Homo sapiens: one gene and its partner. The protein of the gene in region 1 interacts with the protein of each later gene in a pairwise test. Each region holds a gene or a part of one and is shown on either strand. Other genes may lie near its edges.

Region 1 (3,918 bases):
CATGGGAACTATACCTTTCCCAAGAAAGACATTAATCCATCTTAATAACCTATTCACTCTTAAAGGCACCACCTCCCACCACCACATTTGGGGACCAAGCCACAACATGAGTTTTGTTGGGGACAAACTATATTCAAACCATAGTAACGAGGGAATAGCATTATAGGAGTCCAGTGAAAGCTCTGTCTTTGCCCCCAACATGGGGAAGCCAATGCTGAAAAGCAGGGAGGGATTGGGAAAGAAATACCTGATCTCTCTCTCCACCTGCCCTCTGGTTGCCTGCTGTTGCCTCCCACTGAACAAACAGTGGAAGCAGCCAGCAAGGGAGACTGGGTAATGCAGTCTGTGGAGACCAGTCCCCCAGAGCTCAGAGCAAGGCTGAGAAGAGCAGGGAGCAGGTTGGGATGTGAGGGCAACAGAGAAATCAGCACAGGTCCTGGCGGAGATACCAGATTCCAGAGTTTGGAGCTCAAACCTGATCCTTGAAACTGGTTACCAGAATCAGCATATGACCATAGGATGCCTGGGTCTGCTCAGAGCATTGGAGAGGAGGTGAGGCGGTGAGGCAAGGCAGGGCTTCATCCCCTCAGCTGTGTAGGAAGGCAGGTGCCCATGCTCTACTGGTGGAGAAGTCAGGCTCTCTGAGTCTGCAGATCTGCACGTATCCTTTCCGGCACTGTCACAGCTTTGCCAGGGGAACATGGAACTGCTGCATCTCCATAGAGGGGAGGATGGGGGAGGCTGGAAGATGCACTGGAAGCAGGGGTCTTTGTCTTCCTTCTTAGTGCCTTACTCTTCTTTTGGGGACTGGTGAATGGGTGATGCCCACATAGACCCTAAATTAAGACAGAGGACAGTGCCTCTATAGATAGAAGACAAAGAGTGAGAAGATCATTTTGTTCCCACTCCTCCCTCTGACCTCTGTCTGTGTCTAAGCCCGTATGTGTCTCTGCAGGTGTTGGGGGCAATCTGGTGGCAGTGCAGGCCAGCCGCATCTCCACCTTCCTGCACATGAATGGAATGCCCGGAGAGAACTCTGAGCAAGCTCCTCGCCGCTGTCCCAGTCCTTGTACCACCTTCTTCAGCCCTGGTAACGGCAGATTCCCAGCCTCCCAGCCCTGGGGGGAGTGGGCCTACTGTCAGTGAGCTTCACTTAAGAGACAGCTGGGGCCCCAGATCCACAGGTTCTCCTTCTCTGCTGGGCTGTGCCAGCTGTTCTGAAGGGCAGAGCCCAGGCAGGAGGGCTGTCTTTTCCTGGAGCACCCTAGGGGTTGGAGACCACAGGATGCAGAAGTAGAGACATTCATCTGTCTGTTGCCCTGGGGTATGGTGCCGTCCCTCCTGACTTTGAAAGGCCTTCTGGGGCCAGGTCTTCTCCTCCCCTCCTCTTTACACCCTCTTTTCCCCAATTCCAGATGTGAATTCTCGCTCAGCCCGGGTCCTCTTCCTCCTCGTGGTCCCAGGACACCTGGTGTTCCTCTACACCATCAGCTGTATGCAGGGCGGGCACACCACCCTCACACTCATCTTCATCATCTTCTATATGACAGCTGCACTGCTCCAGGTACAAAGTGGCAGGAGCAGGGGCATGGGAAGGAGCCAGGATGCCCTGCAGGGATGGGAGAGGAGGCCAGACTTGGCCTCTTAGACACTCAACCTCCTCTTTCTCTGTGTCAGGGCAGCTGATAAACACCAGACAAGGGTGCAGGAGAACAGATGGTAGTTCCAGTAGAGTCACCAACATGGTGTGTGACTTTGACCCTGTTCTTTTACTACCCTGATCCTCAGCGATACAGTTGTAAATTGAGAGGAATGGACCAGGGGTGGTAGTTTTCATGCAGGTGGTTGTAGGATGCTGAGCCTGTGGGGTTTGCATGCCAACCCCACTGGCCACAGAGCTCCACATGGCTCTGTTTTGCATGTTGAGCTTTCTCAAGAAATTCATTTGCATAAAGCATCCCATAGCTTGAAAAACTGTCAAAACCACTGCACTAGATAATCTGTCGGATCCTGTGTAGCCTTGCCATTCCATAATACCATGACACTTTCTCCCTTCTTGTATTATTACATTGTAAAAGCTTTTTATTTTGAAATCATTACAGATTTGTAAGAAGTTCTCAAAAAAAAGGTTCAGAAATCCCATATACCATTACCCAATTTCCCTCCATGGGAAAATAACATTTTGCATAACTTTAGGACAGTATCAAAATCAGGAAATTAGCATTGATGCAATCTGCAGTGCTTATTCAGATTGAACCAGTTTTACATGCACTCGTGTGTGTGTGTGCGTGTGTGTTCGTTCTATGCAGTTTTTATCACAAGTGGAGATTTGTGTGACCACCACTATAACCAAAATACAGAAAACTGTTTCATCACCACAAGGCTCCCTTATGCTATCCCTTTACAGCTAGATCCACCCTTATTATTACATTTTAAATTTTTATAGGTTTGATTTTTGAATAGTCACATAGTTCAAAAATGTTTTAAGGTTCATAGAGAAACCTCAGTGAAAAGTCTTCTTTTCTGTCCTCTTCTTCACAGCCATCTGTTTCTCTCCTTCACAGACCATCAGTATTATCCCTTTCTTGTGTGTCCTTCAAACCTATTCTATATTTATAAAAGTAAACATATATTTTTCTTATTTCCTTCCTCTTTTTTACACACATGTAGTATACTGTACACACTGTCTGCACCCTGCATTTTTCATTTAAGTTTATCTTTGAGATCATTCCATATCAATACATAAAGAGAACAACACCCTGATTTTCTTACAGCTCCATCATATTCTGTGATACACAGACCATAATTTTATTTCGCCAGTCCTGTATTGATTAACACCTATCCCTCCAGCCCCCTCACCCCCAGCTTTAGAAAGGTTGTGTTCGGACATCTTGGCAGGGGCGGGGCTGAGAATCAGCCATATGCTGTTGCCCTGCAGCAGTTAGCCAAGCTGCCACATTCCATTGCTAGTGGGTTCCAGTGCAGCACGTGGTGGGAAGATGGGGGTGGATATGCCAGGGGTCTGTGGTGGAGGTTTTCAGCTCATCCCTTGGCCTGAATTGGAAAGGATGAGCCTCAGTGCCATCACCCATGATGAATACCCTGGAGACATTCTTGCCTCTGCTGTCCTCTCTAGATCTGTGGAGGGCCAGAGCGTGACACTTGATCCCCTGTAAAGGCTCTTATTGATCCCTTTGCCACCTCCTCCCAGCTGTGTGTCCTGGGGCCTGCTCAAGAAGCTGGAATGTGAGGACAGCTGCTACCATTCCCTTCCTAGGGCATGTCCCAAAGGCCTCCTGGCCATGCTCTTTATTTGGGACCCTTCTGCAGCTGCTGGAAAGGGTGTGAAGTTATGGAAGGTAGGGGAGCCAAGGCCGTGGTAGCACAAGACAGCTGTGTGCAGAGCAAGGGAGAATGTGAAGAGTCATCTCTGGCTTCCTTGGAGAGAGGGCAGGATTCTCTCAGGCAGAGCCTAAAATTTAAAAAAAAAAAAAGAGAGAGGACAGGAGAGCAACCAAGATTGCCTAAAAATAGGTATCAGTTCTGGCTTCTGGATCCCTTAAGGGCTGTGGTTCCCGCATCTGGATCCCTTAGGGCAGAATTTTCATACCACAGTATTTACAAAGTATAGTCAAGGGTAAAACCTCCCAGATGACTGACTGTATTAGAGCTTGACCGTCAGAATCTGTTTCATTCTCACGCAGATGCAGTCATTTAGGGAGCCCAAATGTCAGGCACTGTGCAGATTCTAGGAGATTCAGGCCTGCCCCACCGTGGTATTCTAGATCAAGGGCATCGCCAACTTAAAAGCGCATGTAAATCTTGTTAAATGCGGACTCTGACTCAAGAGGTCCAGAGATTTTGCATTTCTAACAAGCACCCAGCTGTTGTTGATGCTGCTGGTCCTGGGCCCACTAG
Region 2 (3,918 bases), on another chromosome or scaffold:
ATCGTTGGATCTGGTTTTTTTATTCATTCAGCCACTGTGTCTTTTGATTGGAGAGTTTAGTCCATTTACATTCAGTGTTGTTACTGATAAGTAAGGATTTACTCCTGCCATTTTGTTAGTTGTTTTTTGGTTGTTTTGTGGTCTTGTCTTCTTTCTTTCCTTCCTTCCTGTCTTCATTTTAGTGAAGGTGATTTTTCTCTGGTGGTATGTTTTAATTTCTTTTTATTTTTTATGTATCTGTTATAGGTTGGGCTTTCTTTATAGGACAGTGAAAACATTTGAAAATTGATAGTGAGGGTTGTTGTTCAAATCAGTGAATATACCAAAAATCATTGAATTGTATACTTTAAATGGGTGAATTGTATGGTATGTGAATTATTTCTTAATACTATTAAAAATATCAAGAACCTTTCTTTTTCTTTTCTTTTTGTTTTCTTTTGAGATGGAGTCTCGCTCTATCGTCGAAGCTGAAGTGCAGTGGTGTGATCTCGACTTGCTGCACCTCCGCCCTCCGGGTTCAACTGATTCTCCTGCTTCAGCCTCCCAACTAGCTGGGACTACAGGCACATGCCACCATGCCCAGCTACTTTTTGTATTTTTCATAGAGACGGGGTTTCACCATATTGGCCAGGCTGGTCTTGAACTCCTGACCTCGTGATCCACCTGCCTTGGCATCCCAAAGTGCTGGGATTACAGGCGTGAGCCACTGTGCCTGGCTTCTCAAGAACCTTTCATATGGCAAAAGATACCATAAACCATATTAAAGAAAACCCAGACTTGGATTAATTATACGTAACATATAAAACTGTTAAAGGCTTAGTACCCAAAACACAAAAGGAATTTCTAAACATCAATAAGAAATAGACTAACACCCTATTAGTAACTTACCAGAGGATTCAGGCAGTTCAGTTAAGATTGGGCCTAAATGGCTGATTAAAAAAGCGGAAAGATGCTTTGTTTCAGGGAGATACCATTTAAAATAATAGAGATATCATTTCACATCTGTCTTTTTGGACCATATTAATATGCCTTAGGAAATCAAGTGTTGGCACAAATCTCATGGAATGGAGCAGGCTCCTTCACTGCTGGGGAAGTGTAAACTGGTTGATCTCCTTGGAGAGTGGTCTGACAATATCAGGTTGAAGACAGGCCCTACTCTGTGACTTTGTTGTACTACAGCCACTCTTGTACCTGTTGCAATGCGCTTGGTGGGTGAAACAGTAACAGGAACCCAGCTAGGCCCCTCAGACTGGAATAACTCAACCACAGAACAATTACATATATACATCAGTGAAATTCAACGAACTAGATCAACAGAGATCAACAGAGATGTCAGAAAAACAATGTTGAGTGAAAGTGGCATGGAAAATGTGTTGCTGTTGATTTTTAGGGGCTGTTGATGCATCTTTTTGTCTCTAAAATTTAAACGCTGATACAGACTTTTTAAAAAATTGCTTTTTGCTAATGTTGTCGCAGTTTGCTCGTGTTTATAAGTGCTCATTGTGTGCCAGCTACTGTTCTAGGGGCCAGGGGCCAGGGCTGTAGCTGTGAACAAGACAGGCAAAATCTCCACTCTCACTGGGCTCATAAATGAGGGATGACAGATAGTAAACAAGTAGGAAAATAATTGTGCTCTTGGTTGATGCTAAACAATATAAAGGAAATAAAGCAGGGGCTGAGGGTGACCAAGGAAGGTGTGCAAAATCTCCGCTCTCGTTGGGCTCATAAATGAGGGATGACAAACAGTAAACAAGTAGGAAAATAATTGTGCTCTTGGTTGATGCTAAACAATATAAAGGAAATAAAGCAGGGGCTGAGGGTGACCAGGGAAGGTGTGCTCTGAGGAGCTGGCTATTAAACAGAGACTTGCATTTTTTTTTTTAATTGAGACAGTCTCATTCTGTCCCTCAGGCTGGAGTGCAGTGGCGTGATCCTGTCTTACTGCAACCTCCACCTCCCAGGTTCAAGTGATTCTCCTGCCTCAGCCTCCCTAGTAGCTGGGATTACAGGTGTGCACCACTATACCTGGCTAATTTTTGTATTTGTAGTAGAGGCGGGGTTTTGCCATGTTGGCCAGGCTGGTCTCGAACTCCTGACCTCAAGTGATCCACCCGCCTCGGCCTCCCAAAGTGCTGGGATTACAAGCATGAGCCACTGCGCCCAGCCATAGATGTGCGTTTTAAGAAGAGCAAACGTGGAAATGTTTGGGGAAAGCATCCAGGCAGATACAAAATTCTTCAGCTACATCATGGTCAAAAATGGCAGGAAGCATTAAATACTTATGAATAAACTTAATAAAAGAAGTGCAAACGTTAACACTGAAAACAGAAAACATTATTCAAATAAGGAAGCTAAATAGATGGAAAGGTCTGCAAGGCTCTTTGACTAGCAGACAACGTTGTTTGTTAAGAGAGCAGCACTCCCCAAAGCGATCCACAGATTCAGTGCAGTCCCTGTCAGTCCCAGCTGATTTCCTTGCAGACATTGACAAGATGATCCTGAAGAATAGCAAGTCCAGTGTGGCCAAAGCCCAGGAGGGAGGAGGGGAAGTGGATGGTGATGCAGTCAGGGAGACTGGCAGGGCTTCTGAGTCCTGAAAACCCTGTGGGCCATGACAGGGAGCTATTGCCGACCTCTCCTAGGTCTGGTAGAAGCCTTAGGAGCTTTTAAGCAGGGCTGGGATGGCTGTGAGCCATATGGCAATGAGCAGGACAGAATGTCGAATAAATAGAATTCAGCTTTTCAGTGGCAGGAAATGAGAGCATCCTCACTTTCTTTCTGTACATGTTGTGTATTTGTGTCACATTACTGACCCACCTAAACCTTTTCTTAAGTGATACGGAAGTAACAGTATTTATTATAGAATATTTAGAAGATTGAGTCTGGGTACGGTGACTCACACTTGCAATCCCAGAACTTTGGGAGGCTGAGGCAGGAGGATTGCTTGAGGCTAGGAGATCAAGACCAGCCTGGGCAACATAGCGAGACCCCATCTCTTAAAAGGTAATAAATTAGCCGGGCACGGTGGCTCACGCCTGTAATCCCAGCACTTTGGGGGGCCAAGGCAGGCAGATTACGAGGTCAGGAGTTCGAGACTAGCCTGGCCAATATGGTGAAACCCCATCTCTACTAAAAATACAAAAATTAGCTGGGTGTGGCGGCACATGCCTGTAGTCTCAGCTACTTGGGAGGCTGACGTGGGAGAATCACTTGAACCCAGGAGGCAGAGGTTGCAGTGAGCCAAGACTACACCATTGCTCCAGCCTGGGTCACAGAGTGAGACTCCGTCTCAAAAAAAAAAAAAAAGAAAAAAAAAAATTAGCCGGGCATAGTGGTACACACCTTTAGTCCTGGCTACTCGGGAGGCTGAGGTGGGAGGATAGCTTAAGCCTAGGAGTTCAAGGCTGCCGTGAGCTATGATCACGCCACTGCACTCTAGCCTGGGTGACAGAACGAGAGACCCTGTTTCTTAAAACACACACACACACACACACACACACACACACACACAATATTTAGAAGATTCAAACTGAAAGAGAATATGTATTCAGGATCCTGCCACTTTGAGGTAATGGCAGTTAACATTTAGTGTTTCTTCCTTCTAGTCTTTTGAATGAAGTTATGATCCGACATTTCTCAAATTCAGTAATGAGTGCCCATCCCACCCAGCTCACCCCCCAACACCTCAAAAGGAAACAAAAGAATCATAGCTTTCCTGTTGGCAAGTCAGTCCTTGAAGCTTCTGATTCATTTCTTTCAGGTGGAGCTGATCAGAATAATGTTCAGCATCAACCCCCTGGAGAACCTGAAGGTGTACATCAGCAGTCGGCCTCCCCTGGTGGTCTTCATGATCAGCGTAAGCGCCATGGCCATAGCTTTCCTGACCCTGGGCTACTTCTTCAAAATCAAGGAGATTAA

Evidence for each region.
Region 2: the proteins of SLC41A1 (region 1) and TMEM248 interact in binary tests that used the Homo sapiens proteins (3 or more experiments, as listed by UniProt).

The regions. Positions count from the first base shown.
Region 1 is NC_000001.11:205,792,516-205,796,433, reverse strand, and holds part of SLC41A1 (solute carrier family 41 member 1), read left to right. Parts: intron 1-955; coding exon 956-1,090; intron 1,091-1,415; coding exon 1,416-1,564; intron 1,565-3,918. UniProt on the Homo sapiens protein: Na(+)/Mg(2+) ion exchanger that acts as a predominant Mg(2+) efflux system at the plasma membrane.
Region 2 is NC_000007.14:66,938,088-66,942,005, forward strand, and holds part of TMEM248 (transmembrane protein 248), read left to right. Parts: intron 1-3,760; coding exon of another isoform or gene 3,761-3,778; coding exon 3,779-3,918.